2 linked regions of the Homo sapiens genome follow. The protein of the gene in region 1 purifies or fractionates together with the protein of each later gene. This does not show direct contact. Each region holds a gene or a part of one and is shown on either strand. Other genes may lie near its edges. The genes, in order: FAM9C and MYO18A.

Evidence for each region.
Region 2: the proteins of FAM9C (region 1) and MYO18A purify together in Homo sapiens (co-immunoprecipitation; 2 studies listed by BioGRID and IntAct, with this or other methods). This does not show direct contact.

What each region holds. Positions count from the first base shown.
Region 1 is NC_000023.11:13,034,681-13,041,620, reverse strand, and holds the end of FAM9C (protein FAM9C), read left to right. Parts: intron 1-748; coding exon 749-863; intron 864-1,704; coding exon 1,705-1,813; intron 1,814-3,117; coding exon 3,118-3,180; 3' UTR 3,181-3,205; exon of another isoform or gene 3,206-5,602; 3' UTR 5,603-6,004; downstream 6,005-6,940.
Region 2 is NC_000017.11:29,177,371-29,185,417, reverse strand, and holds the start of MYO18A (unconventional myosin-XVIIIa), read left to right. Parts: upstream 1-5,019; 5' UTR 5,020-5,105; intron 5,106-8,047.

The sequences.
Region 1 (6,940 bases):
ATTGTGTATTAAGTTATTTCTACCCTTTTGATGGTCTTATTAAATCAGATACTTTTTTGTGCTTTACATAATGAGTTGTGACAGTATTTCACGGAAACATGTCCTTTGAATTGTAGGACATTTTATAAATGTAGAAATTAAAGTCTGTGGCTGGGCACGGTTGCTCACACCTGTAATCCCAGCACTTTGGGAGGCCGAGGTGGGTGGATCACGAGGTCAGGAGATCAAGACCATCCTGGCTAACACGGTGAAACCCCGTCTCCACTAAAAATATAAAAATTAGCCGGGCGTGGTGGCGGGCGCCTGTAGTCCCAGCTACTCGGGAGGCTAAGGCAGGAGAATGGCGTGAACCCGGGAGGCGGAGGCTGCAGTGAGCCAAGATCGTGCCACAGCACTCCAGCCTGGGTGACAGAGCGAGACTCTGTCTCAAAAAAAAAAAAAAAGAAATTAAAGTCTGTGTTTGTAACCCTTTCTGCACACTTAAAAAATAGAAACTTTTAATTATTTGCTTTTTTTCATTATCTGTCAATTAAGTGATTTGCTGTTATACCAACTGAAATTGGAATACTAATACCTGAAAGGTTTTACATAAAGTAAGTAAATCTTGCTTTTTGAAATGATCTTTGCATTTTACATTTTAAATGTCCTTCTGATATTGCTGAACCATCAAGTCCCATATTGATTTTAATATATGCAAAGAAACTACTTTTCAACATGAACATTTAATGCATATTCATTTACTATCTAGCTGACATTAAAGAGCATCTTGCTGCAAAGAGAAAAAGGATTGAAAAGATTGCAAAAGCTTGCAGCGAAATAAAGAACAGAATTAAAAATGTTTTGAGAACAACACAACTAAAAAGGTATGATTGTTGGCTTTTTTGAATAATGATATTTATATCATTTCTTTGTATTCATTGGTGCAAATAATTTCCAGAACTATCCTGTACATATTGGTGTCTCTAGGGAACAACATATTTTACTTGATTGTTCCCTAAACAGGTAAGTTTCTTTAGTTTTATAACCTCAATTTAACAGAATTGAGAGATATTACCTAGAAGCCAATGAAGATGACCTCTTTTTGCCTTCCAGATAAAAAGTCTTCCTGTAAAATTAATGTTTATCCATTTCTAGAAATACGGTAGGTGAATATAAGATAAATGTCTTCAACGTTTAGTCTGTAGATTCTTAACAATATTCAATTATGTAGAAAGGGATAACCTTGTGTTGTAAATAAGTTATTTATTTTAGTTAAATTGTTTTCACTATTCCTTTTAGATCATTGTCGTGCCAAAGTGGAGAAATAGTTAAGTGAAGTATTTCTTTCGGGAAATCTTACGGGATGAATGGCTATGATATTCTTGCACCTCCTTATGAGAACGCATATGTTATTTAGTAAGAAGAAATGAAAAGTAAACTGCTCTTGGAGAAAAAGATTGTTTCTGGGAAATTTATAGTGCAGTAAACCCTCCTTTGTCTTCAGCAGGTAAAGAATGTAAGATAGCTGCTCTAGTAGTCAGTTAGGAAGGGATCCTTTCAGAATGACAGTAACTCATTTCACCTTTTCCCAAAAAGAAGATTTCAGCTGCTATTACTCCCTTGCTACTTTATAGTACAAACTATGTCAAGTCAGTTTTGGTTTGAATAGGATTAATTTTTCATCCCTCTATGACGTATGACCTTGTTACTTATTATGTGTTACAGGCAGAAACGTGATTATAGAATTTCTCTGAAGTTGCCGAATGTCCTTGAAGAGTTCATCACAGATGAGCAGAAAGATGAGGAAGGAGATGGAGAAAAGGAAGAACAAATTGTTGGTATCAGGCTTAGCTTTATGATTAACCTATTGTATCAATGTCTCAGGTAGTAATAGTTCATGCAGAAATCCAGCAAAGAAGGAAGAGAGCATGAGCCCAGAGAGGGTCGCCCATTAGTGGACTCATGGACTAGGGGAATATAATTGCCATGCAGCATTAGGGGTCCAACTGAAGTCAGCATCATAGCGATGAAGAAGTTAAAGTGAACTCAGTTGGCATATTTGTGCAAGAGCAGCTGTAGGGTTGGAATTTCCTGGGTTGGGGTGTAGCCGAGCATGTTGATAGAGGGAGAGTTGGACAGGGCATAGAGGCAGGGATGGGGTTATGATGACTGGCTGTGGAATTTCAGCTGGGGCTGAGTTACCTGAGCACATGGGGGTGGGGCATTGGGCAGTGAAAAGTGCTCCATTCAATAGGCGTCAGGTCCCTACAGACTCCTGAGCTGTAGTACTGAAGTGAGTGACCTACAGTGGCAGGAAGGTAGTGGCTGTATGTTGGGAAGATGGAGAAACAGATGAGTGCAGTGGTCAAGGGCTGCGACTCTGGAGCCCCACTGCTTGGGATCCAATTCCAGTTTGACCATTGCTAGTTCAGGAACCATGGGCATATTATTTATCTCTGTGCTAAAGTTACTTTATATACGAAAGGAGACATGGTGAGGGTACCTATTTCAGAGTTGTTTGGAGGATTAAAGGGTTCCTGTGTAACAGGTTTATTTAAATTTTTCAGGATGCGATCTGACCCATGGTTGCTGTTTATCATTGCTATTATTAATATTATGTAGATACTGCAGTCACTGGGAATGACAAAATTTAGGGGATGACTGTGAGTGCCACGTAGAGGAGAGGAGAACACTATTGTTGGAGATTAGGTCAAGGTGCAGAAAGGCAATCATTAATGGAAGGTTTATCTATGTACATATTGAAATGACCAAGATTTAACAGGTGTTTAAAATCTTAGTAAGAAAGAATGTTTCTTAGTTAATTTCTGTATAGATCTTACCTATCTGTGGTCAACAAATTATAGGAAGGGTCATCAAATACTCTTCATTTGAAATCAAGAATTAAGACGTATGTGTTGAATATGTATAAGAAAGAAAATTCTTTACTCCATGACTGATGAAAAAGGTTATTGTTTTAGCACATGAGTGGTGAACACAATTGTTTCAAATTGGTCATAAACGTTGTCTAAAAGAAAGTGTTCAGAAGTATTGATTTAAAGAGTATTTCTTTAATGCAGAATGTTTTATAAGTATTAAAATTTACCCAATTTTAATCACTTTTTTGTTTTGTGCCTCTAGAAAATATTTCAAGAGCAACAAAAGAGGTGGCAACAAGATGGGAAAGGAACTGAAAGAGATTGAGCCACCACACGAGCAATTCACAAAGGTCTGTTCTATTTGGTAACACAATACGTTCTTATAAAATACAACACATGCATAAAAATAGAAGACAATCTGCTTGTTTCTGAATGTATGGAAAGACATTTTGGTTATACATTTTAAATTACTTACCATTTTCACTTTGAATGTGTTGTTCCAGATTTAACATAAGTAGTAAATAACATAAAATAACATAAAACAGTATTTTTAGGATTCATGAATAGTTTTGTAGGAGTTATTTAGAACAGGAAAAGGTAAATTGGAAATTTTACCTAGAAATATACATCTTGTGTATAAAAATTGATACCTTATGAACACATTAATGAAGACTTTATTTTCAGTTTTTAGGAGATCAGCGACAAATCTTTAGTGGAAGGCAGAAAGTCCATAAGTCCTTTCTGGATGTCTTTTTTACTTGTGTTGTTTCAAGAGTTTTAGTTAAATAGGAAGTAGGCAAATGTAACTACTGAGTATCTCTTTTGTTTTCTGCTGTAATGTAGGAGTGTTTTATGGCATATTCACTTTCAAAATTATTAGTGACTAGTAATGGTTTTACATGACAATTTGTAATCATAAGAGATGGTTCAGATGTATAACAGAATGGGAAAGCCAGCAGATTATTAACATGTTGTGAATTGTGAATTATCTGCTGTCGTACAGCACATTAGCAAATTGTCATCGGACAATGACCGCTTCTTCATGTAGATGTATATTATTTAGGAAGCAATGGAATTCCCTTCTGGGAGGTAAGATATTCTTTTTAATAACCTTGTGGAAAGACATGTTCATATGTCACTCCTCTACACTAACTGAGATGTGTTAAATAAACTGGGAAAAGAGTTTGAAAATAGAATTTTCAAGCAACTCAAAGATTATCTATACACAAAACGGTTATTTATATAGAAGTCACAAGTAGAGAACATGTTGCTATAATGTTCCCCAGAAACCATTTATTAATTGGTATGAACATGAGACTAGAAAAGTTTTCCTGTCAATGTTAATGCTACATGTTACCACTTAGGGTAGGAACTTCGGTATCATCTTGGACTCTTCTGAGTCCATTATCTTTCACATACAGTTTTCATGAGGCAAGTTTTACTCTGCAATGGTCCTTAAATTTCTTTTTTTTAAATTGCCACTGAGGCAACCCTAGTTCAAGAACTCATTCTTCCTTGCTTGTACTATTAAACTCTTTTCTGAGTTCTCTCTTCTCTTCTGAGCCACCCTTCATTGATCAGAAATACTATCTTCCTAAAACTCTTCCCTTCCTAAAATGCTTCTAGCCCTTCACTCTTCCCAGCCTATCAGTGGTATCCACATGTCAGTTCTTAGATATTCAGAGACTCTCCCCTTTACATGACCCCCTCTTAGGCTTGTTTTACTGCCTTCTGTCTTTCTTCCCGCCTCTCCAGGTTGACAGCCTTCTCTGAACGACCTCTCCATTACTCTCATGCTTTGCTCATGCTCTTCCCTCACAATGCTTTTAAAGTCCTTTTTTTTTTTTGATCGATTGAAATCTTTTGCCAACTAAGTGGACATCAGTCTCCATTTTTGGCTACATGTCCGAGTGAGTTGCTCTTCCACAGCAGTTACATAAGTTTTGTATTATTTTTTTTATTCGTGCATATTTGCTCATGTCACAGGAATATGGAAGAGATTGTGTATTCATTTTTTACATCTTCCTCAGCATTAACATACCACTTTTTAGGGAGTAGGAACTGTTGAACTATTTGTTGAGAGAATAGTATATATTTCAAACATAGTTATGTTTTCTCTAACTTGATGAGGTCATGTCACAGACCATTTTATCCCTTCAGTGGAAACCATGTTATGTCGACTATTAGTGATAACAAATGGGTCACTATCTGGTGAAAAAATATGGTATTTCATGATCTAAGACTACCAGTCTTTTTCTGTTTTTGCTCCATCTTGACCATAACATATTCATCAAACCATTTTCTTCAAGCAAAGTACATGACTGTTGGACCTGCTATAATAATATTTCACTAAAATCTGGCATTAAAAATTTTAAGTATTTGGAGCTCCATGTACTGATTACAGTTTTTAAATTTGAAATAAATGACCAGCATCCTTTGAATATTAAAAGCTGTTTCCTTTTGACATTTAATTTACTCTCTTTAAAATGTGAGTTGTAAAGTGATGGTTTGTCAGTGAACTAGACTTTTTGTTTTAGAGTGTGAGGACTTGGAAGAGTATAATGAAAGCCCTCTTTTTGGTGAAGAGAGTCAACTTAAAAAATAAATTGCCATGTTCCAAAATAATATTGTGGTAATTGTAAGTAGTGCATATTTTATCTTAAAAACTCAGGATTGATGTAAGCACTGGAATATTTTATTTGTAGAAATGTGTATCGCAATTACTTAAATTTATTTTTTTGAAACAGCTGCAGCAAGAGTTGGCACTTATTCAGATGTATCTTCAACCTCTGTTATTCTGGTGACTGACAAAAGAACTTGAACCTATGTTATATGATACATGCATAACTTGAGCTACACTAAACCACATGACAGTGTTTAGTTAATTCTTGTATAAATTAGTATATCTCTTCTATTATTAGTCTGTTTGTTAAATGCCAGACCACGTTTCTATGATCTGTTGAATGAACCCTAGACAGTTCTGTGAGAAAGCAGCAATTGCACAGTTACATACACAGTCAATTAAATTTTAACATTAAAGATAATTTAGTTTTAGGTTTGGCCTCTGTGGATCTGTATCAGTTCCAAAATGTGGAAAGCACGGGCATGGAAAAGTACATTTTTCTCTAATAAAAGAAGACAAACCCTTATTTTATCTGTGCATTCTTTGTATTTACTCATTAAGTTAAAGAAGCAATTCCAATGAAAGCAAGACTTCAAAAAATAGATAAACTCTGTGGCCTTTCAAAATTATTAAAAGTACCTTAACATCTGTGTTCTTGAAAAAATTAAACTACTATAAATGATTGAGACAACTGAGCAAGATATATTAATATCAGTGCTGAGCCACCGGCTTCTGGGTATGTCATTTCCACAGACATCAAATTGCCATTTGGTTTGTTTTGGTCCACCATTCAGTGATATCTCCCCTTAACATTGATTCAAAGTATTTTATTAACATTTATGTATGCTTACAATTATTTCACATCTGTGGCAAGGTAAATTATGTAGGGTGCTTTGTTTTTCGAGTTTAGTATTTGTGGAGTATGTGGAAGTTTAAGTATACATGCATCTAAAAACTTAAGTGATGAATTCTCCTACCTTTCCTTTTGTAATGTGCAGTTGTTACATGTAACAACATACAAAATGTTCATTTGGAAACACTTTATTTAGTAAATATGAAATTCAGAATATATTTGGAGTAAGTCAGTTAAATGTATTCTTTTGCTGAGTTTCTGAAATTCCATTCATGAATTGTTCAAAACACAATACTCCCATTGGGAGGAGAGGAGCGACTTCCTCTCATTTTTCCTTGTGCTTTTTATTTTAATTGGCCCCTATATACCACTCTTGTTTTTCTAGGTTTTCCAAGTTTAAGAAAAAAAGAAAAACAAGTTCATTCAGATTCTGTTTTTCTGCCTGCAATCACTTATGCAGGAATAAGTGAGTCCTTATGGGGAGCATTTAATTCCTAAAGTTTGCATTTTCATAAAGGATTTTCCTTTTACCCAAAGCATGTGTTGGTGTATAAGTCTAACTACTACTTCAAGTTTCTAAGAAGATCCTCATTTGAGATCTGCAGAGGT
Region 2 (8,047 bases), on another chromosome or scaffold:
GAGCTCTCAGGGACACCATATGCTACCCAGAGAGTGCCCTAGGTGTAGACACATGTAAATAAAAGAGTTGTTGACTGGCATGTGGTGGCTCACGCCTGTAATCCCAGCACTTTGGGAGGCCAAGGCAGGCGGATTACCTAAGGTCAGGAGTTTGAGACCAGCCTGGCTAACATGGTGAAACCCTGTTTCTACTAAAAATACAAAAAGTTAGCCAGGTGTGGTGGCGGGCGCCTGTAATCCCAGCTACTTGGGAGGCTGAGGCAGGAGAATCGCTTGAACCTGGGAGGCGGAGGTTGCAGTGAGCTAAGATGGCACCATTGCACTCCAGCTTGGGCAACAAGAGTGAAACTCTTCCTAAAAAAAAAAAAAAAAAAGAGTTGTTAATATACCTATTCATTTCACTGCCATGGTGTAGGGAAAAGAATGGGCTTTGGAGCCTTAGGGACCTCAGTTTGAATCCTGACTCTGCTACTCTTAGGCTGGGTACAAGTCACAAAGCTGTCTGTGCTTCATTTCCACAACTATGAGTTAGGAAAGATAACCAAGCTAACAGCTATAGAATGCTTACCATGTACTGGGCATTGTTCTTTTTATATATTAAATCATGTAATTTTTAAAAATTAATAAATACAAGGCCGGGCAAAATGGCTCACGCCTGTAATTCCAGCACTTTGGGAGGCCAAGGTGGGTGGATTACCTGAGGCCAGGAGTTTGAGACCAGCCTGGCCAACATGATGAAACCCCATCTCTACTAAAAATACAAAAATTAGCCTGGTGTGGCGGCACATGCCTGCAATCCCAGCTACTTGGGAGGCTGAGGCAGGAGAATCACTTGAACCTGGGAGGCAGAGGTTCCAGTGAGCTGAGATCACAGCACTGCACTCCAGCCTGGGTGGCAGACTGAGATCCTGTCTCAAAATAATAATAATAAATATTATTTTAAAAATCAGTTTAAGTTCACAGCCAAATTGAGCATAAAGTACAGAGATTTCCCATATGCCCCCTGCCCCGACACATGCACAGCCTTCCCCACGATCACACTCTTCACCAGAGTTGTACATTTGTTACAATCGATGAACCTACATTGACACATCAGTATCCCCCAAAGTCCATGGTTTACATTAGGATTCACTCTTGGTGTTGTACATTTTGTGGGTTTTGACAAACACATAATGACATGTATTCAACAGTGCGGTATCACACAGAAGAGTTTCACTGCCCTAAAAATCCTCTGTGCTTTGCATTTTCATCCCTCCCTCAACCTTAATCCATGGCACCACTAACCTTTTTATTGTCTCCATAGTTTTGCCTTTTGCAGAATGCCATATAGTTGGAATCATACAACATGTAGCCTTTTCAGATCAGCTTCTTTCACTTATTAATATACATTTAAGTTTCCTCCATGTCTTTTCATGGCTTGATAGCTCATTTCTTTTTTAGTGCCACATAATATGCCATTGTCTAGATATACCATAGGTTATTTGTCCATTTACCTACTGAAGTTCATCTTGGTTGCTTCCAAGTTTTGGCAATTATGAATAAAGTTGCTACAAACATCATGTGCAGGATTTTGTGTGGACATAAGTTTTCAATTCATTTGGATAAATACCAAGGAGTGGGATTGTTGGATTGTATGGTAAGAATATGTTTCATTTTCTAAGAAACCACCAAACTGTCTTTCAAAGTGGCTATACCATTTTGCTACCAGCAGAGAATGGGAGTTCCTGTTGCTCTACATTCTTGCTAGCATTTGGAGTTGTTGGCATTTCGGATTTTGGCCAAAATCCAAATTTAGGTAAATAAAGTAGTTTTACCTCATGGTCATCTTAATTTGCTATTCTCTTTTATTTTTTATTTATTATTATTTTTTGAGACGGAGTCTTGCTCTGTCACCCAGGCTGGAGTGCAGTGGTGCAATCTCGGCTCACTGCACCCTCTGCCTCCTGGGTTCAAGTGAATCTCCTGCCTCAGCCTCCTGAGTAGCTGGGACTACAGGTGCATGCCACCACACCAGGCTAATTTTTGTTCTTTTAGTAGAGACAGGGTTTCACCATGTAGGCCAGGATGGTCTGGATCTCTTGACCTCCTGATCCACCTGCCTCGGCCTCCCAAAGTGCTGGGATTACAGGCGTGAGCCACTGCACCTGGCTTTAATTTGCTATTCTCTAGTGACATACAATGTTGAGTATCTTTTCTTTTGCTTACTACTATCTGTATATCTTCTTTGGTAAGGTGTCTGATCAGGTTTTTTACCCATTTCTAAATTGGGTGGTTTTCTTATTGTTGAGTTTTTAAAACTCTTTGCATATTTTGGATAACAGTCCTTTATCAGATGTCTTTTGCATATTTTTAGTAGAGACGGGGTTTCACCATGTTAGCCAGGATGGTCTCGAGCTCCTGATCTCATGACACACCTGCCTCAGCCTCCCAAAGTGCTGGGATTACAGGCGTGAGCCACCGCACCTGGCTTTAATTTGCTATTCTCTAATGATATACAGTGTTGAATATCTTTTCTTTTGCTTACTGCTATCTGTATATCTTCTTTGGTAAGGTGTCTGATCAGGTTTTTTGCCCATTTCTAAATTGGGTGGTTCATTTTCTTATTGTTGAGTTTTTAAAACTCTGCGTATTTTGGATAACAATCCTTTATCAGATGTCTTTTGCATATATTTTATCCCAGTTGTGGCTTGTCTTCTCATTCTCTTGACAGTCTTTTGCAGAGCAGACATTTTTAATTTTAATGAAGCCCAGCTTATCAGCTCTTTCTTTTATGGTGCCTTTGGTGTTGTATCTAAAGAGTCATTGTGATACTCAAGGTCATCTAGGTTTTCTCCTATGTTATCCTCTAGGAGACAGTTTTATAGTTTTGTGTTTTACATTTAGGTATATAATCTATTCTGAGTTAATTTTTGTGAAGGGTATAAAGTCTGTGTCTAGACCCCCCCCTTTTTTTTTTTTTGCATGTGGATGTCCAGTTTGTTGAAAAGCCCCATGTGTTGAAAAGACTAAGCTTATATAATTTTCAAAACAAATTTTGAGGGAGGGAGTCACTGTTATTATCCCAATTTTTTGGATGAGCAAAGTGAAGCACAGAGAGGTGATTTATAAAAAATCACCCAGAGTAACACAGCTAGTACTTTACAGAACTGAGATTTTGAATCCAGGCAATCCAGCTCCAGAGTCCATGCACTCAACCCCTATCTATAATAATAATGTCTCCCTCATAGGTTCATTGTGAGGAGTAGAGATAGTGTCTAGTATATAATAGGTACTCAGGAAACACTAATGATAGTCGTTGTCCTACTTAGCCTGCAAGGTTCCGCTCAAATGTCATGTTTTTGGGGTTTTTTTTTTTTCTTTTTTGGAGACAGAGTCTTGCTCTGTCGCCCAGGCTGAAGTACAGTGGTGTAATCTCCGCTCACTGCAACCTCTGCTCCCCAGGTTCAAGAGATTCTCCTGCCTCAGCCTCCCAAGTAGCTGGGATTATAGACATGCACTACCACGCCTGGTTAATTTTTTGTATTTGTAGTAGTGATGGGGTTTCGCCATGTTGGCCAGGCTGGTCTTGAACGCTGGCCTCAAGTGATCTGCCCACCTCAGCCTCCCAAAGTGCTGGGATTACAGGCATAAGCCACCATGCCTGGCCTCAAATGTCATGTTTTTGAAGCTGCTCTTCTCACTCCTCAAGCCAAATAAGCCTCCCATCATAGCACCTATCTCATCATCCAAGTAATGCCAGCATGGTGAACCCTACTACTGTCACAGCTCAGGTCTACCTGTTCCCCATGTGATTTCCCTGGAGATATGCCATGTCTGATCTCCTTCTGTGTCACCCCAAGTGCCTGGGGCTGCACTTGGCACTTAGCAGGCAGTTTGTTAAATTGAATTTGAGTTGCATGTTATTCCAAAATGTGTATCCCGCCTGGGTCTATTCCTCAGGAACTCCCTAACTCTTACTCAACTCTCTGCTTTCTGAGCCTCCTTGCTCCAGCCTTCCCTGGTCTGTCAGGTTGGGCTGCCCTTGCCTGGAGAAGTTCCTGTTTGGGCTGTCTAGGGAGGTAGCAGCATTTGTCTGCTACACCCTTCTTCCTGCACCACCCCACTCAGTTTCTTCCACATTCTGGCACACCCCACTCCAGCATGGACACTGCCCAGGGAAGTGTCCCCATTTCTTTCTTTCTCCAAACTCTAGACATAGCACCTATCTTGGAGGCCTGGTATCTGGATGTCCCTTGGCCTCTCCCAGGAAGTATAAACTGTCTTCTTGGTGGGTACAGCAGCTCACTTGATATTTACAGCACACAGTGGACCCAGGGACAGACTGCATTCCAAAGAGCTTCTGAAAGTGTTAATCTTGGCATTGGTGAACTCCTTTAGGGAGTGAGTGGCACTTACAGCCATGGCTCCCGGGCCCTGGTACGCCTCTTGATCCACTCCATTTTGAGGCAGGGCTGTATCAGACCAAGCTATTGGGAGTCTGTTTTTACCTTGGGGAGTGCATTCTGGCAGTGCCATCTCGGACATGGCAGGCAGTACCTGGTCTGGACTGAGCCTGGGGCACCATCCAGCAGGGCCCTGTGTGTGCCTCTGCAGAGCCACCTTGGGAGGAGGCGGCCAGTAAGACTTAATTGCTTCCTTTAGACAGCACTACCTTGAACACAGCCTGCAGAGTTCGGTGCCTGCCTTGGACAGCCCCTCTTCTATACGTTCATCATGACCCTGGTGCCTGTCCTAGGCAGTGCCACTCAGCCCCTTTCGGACCCTTTTCGGACAGCCTCCAGTGCCCAGTGCAGACAGAAACTCCAGGCAGGGCCTCTCTCAGACACAGCGAGAGGGGCTTCGGAGTCCACAGCGGACGGAGGCTGCCAGGGCAGCGCCCGGCCCGCCTGGCCCACGTCTGGCGGCGCGCACTGGCGCTGCCAGGCAGGCCGGGCGTTTATCCCCACAGCCGCCAGCAGGGAGCTCCCTTTCGGCTCGGCCTGCGCGGTCGCTGGGGGCGGCGCTGAGCTGCGCCGCGCTGCGCTCTGCTCCATCCCTGACCGGGCCGAGGCTGCTGGATGCCGCGTCTCCGCTTCTGCTGCCTGCCGGGCGGGCTCCGGTGGCCGGTGAGTGCCGGTCGGCGGCGGCGGCCGCTCGGTGGCGGGCCCGGCTTGGTGGGGCGGCGGGGCGGGCTCCGGCCGGGAGGGAGGGCGGGCGGGCGGCGGGGCCCGCCGGCTCCTCCTCCTCCTCCCCCGTCCCCTGGAAGCAGCGGCCCGGACTCCCGGCTCCCGTCCCTGGCGGCGCCGTGGAGCTCGACGCCCGGGGGTGGGGGCCGATCGGGAGCGGCGGGGAAGGGGGAACCACCGGCCCTTCCAGCCAACCTGGGGGGCGCAGGGAGGCAGGACAGGGTGGCCTTCAGTGTGGGGGGATTTGGGGCTTGGAGGCGCCCAGGTGGCCCGGAGCTGCGGGGTGGGGGCTGCAGCCTCGAGGGTGGGGGGACTTCTCCTGCCCCCGTCCAGGCCCCACGATGGAGCGAGCGAGAGAGCGGGGCGCTGAGGAAGGCAGCGGGGAAGGGGAGCACCTCTACCGACCCTTTTATCCCTCCCAGCGGCCTTCACTCTTTCACTGCCGGGCAGACTGCGGGCTCCTCTCAAAGGAGCAGCTGCTAGACAGCTGGCAAAACAATGGAGACCCCGCTTCCCTGGGCCCCCTCCTCTTGGGACAGAAGATGAGAGGGTGAATGGTGGCAGGCTTTGGGGATTAGGGAGTGCAGGCTGTGCCCTGAGACTGAATGCTCACCTCACCTTTCCCTGCAGAGGGGTGGGGTGCGTGTGGGAAGGTCGGACAAGCTGCCCCAGGCCTCTGGAGAGACCGCCCCGACGCCCCGCCCTGCTAACCTGTCATGCCAGTTGTTTCGCCAATGGGAAGGGGAGGTGGTAGGGGTGGCTGCCCCCTCACCCTGCCCCTTGTTAGTGGGGGTGCGCTCCTTGGTCCCAAACCCGGCCAGGAGTGTGGGTCATGTTCCTGGGTGCGATAAGGCCCGCAGGGACAGGCCAGGCATTGGGGCTTTGTTTTGGGGGTGGAGATGGGGGAGTTGCCCTACTGCAAGGCACATGTGTCTTGCTGATTAGTTGGAAAGGTTGCGGCCAGAATGAGCTAGAGGTGGGGGGTGGGGGAGATGGGGAGGAAGACAGCCAGTTTGTTTTTGAGCGGGTATTCATTTTGCCTGACCACTTTGCCAATGGGGCATGTGTTTGGCGCTGGCCTCATAGTTTGTATTTGTGTGGGGAGGGCTGGGGGAATGCTTCCTGAGAGGGACTGTCCTGGCTAGGGCTTTCATTCCCTCAGATGGCCACCCCGAATTAAAGAATTGGATTCCCTCCCTGCTTCACCCTGCCAATGACTTGGGCTAGTTAGTGTGGGTTCGTCTTGTCTTTTGGAGCCCCTGGCGTGTCTGTGGCCGAGAAGGCCTCATCAGTGCCCCTGTGGCAAGTGAGCTCTGGGAAGTGTGTATGCACTGGGGTGTGCTGGAAGGGAGGGGAGGCCACCTGGGTGATTAAGAGCAAGATCACCTGAGCAGGACGGTGAGTACAGAGCCCATTGAATCAGCCGCCTTTCCCTTGTGCTTTGGAGCCCTTTTCTTGAGCAGGTTGGTGCCCTGTTGTTGTGGCAACAGGCCTGGCCTAATGTTCCCCACCCTTTTTAGTTCAGGGGCTACTTTCTATCTGGAGATATTGAAAGTTGCTCTCCTGAGGTCTCTGGCTTCCTGACAAGCCTCACTGGCTCTTTGTCCATGGCTTCCCACCTCCTCAGCTTCCTCTCTGTTTTTTTGTGATGAAGTCTTTCCAGGAAACATCCTCCTGGTTTCTGGATTTGACATGACGGGTTATATATAGCCTCGGGTGGAGGTGTGCTTGTCCATTTTGGGTTGAGGACATGGGGGTTGTGGCCTCAATTCCAGGAAAACCATGGCTTTGGGGGCAGCTATTGTGTTGAGGGATTAGGGGAATGAGAAGGGTTGTAGGTGGGGGTGGAGGGTGGGCATGGGAGGGGCCACAGGCTGGCGGTCACTTCCTTTGGGAGCTTTGAACTTTGAACAGTTGATGACCTGGTGCCTGGTAGCTCTGAGTGTCTAGTTTGTTTACTCTCTCCTGGCCTGGCCCAGGTGCCAGAGTGTGTGCCTGAGGGCTTCCTCCTGCGCCCCAGACTTTCCTCATGTGGGTTATGCCCTTCCTGACTCCCACCTGGTCTCTCAGCCTCACTCCTGGGCTGTCTGGGTAGCCAGCCAGTTCCCTGGAGGCCCCCTCACTGGCCCTGGTAGTGGCTATTCATTGAGGACTGCATGTGTCTTCAGAAACTGGGCCTGAAAACTCTGGGTCCCCCAGAGGCAGGTACCTAAAGGTGGACTGGGTGGGGCAGAACTGGGGCTCATGTGAAAGGGAGAATCCACCCTGCTGAGGTGGAGCTGGGAGTTGTTGGAACTCAGGAAGCCTTCATCTGGACTTGCTGTGTCACAGGTCTTCAGGGCAGCAGGGCTGTTCTTAATCCTTCAAACCAGAGGTCTCTCCTCAGCCAGATCCTCTCACCTGGGGTGGACGCCACAGGCAGGAGCCAGAGCATCCACGTGAGCTGGGTTTTGTTGGTGGCCTGGGGTCCCAGGCCTGAGTGTGGTGGGAAAACTGAGGGGCTCTGGCTGGTTGTAGTTTAAAGGTTTGGGGCAGTAGGAGGGCCCAGCCCACTGTCTGCTGTAATTGACAGGTTCCCACAGGACTTGGGATTGGTAGGGCAGCTTGATGGAGTTTAAGTTCTGCTTTGGGTCAGACCCCCGGGTGCTTTAAGATCTGCACACCCCACCCCATCACCATTTCTTCCCCCTAGCATTTTCCAAGGTGGCCTGAATTAGAGGAGTTGGGGAGGTGCCGAGGTAGGAGCTGGATTGGGAGGGGTGGTGAGCAGACCTGGTGAGCCTCCACTTCCCACCTTCACTTCCCTGCCCTTCTTTTGAGGTAGGAATTGCAGGGCTTGTAAAATGTCAATTTCCCTTGACATTTTAAACAGTTTAGAGTCA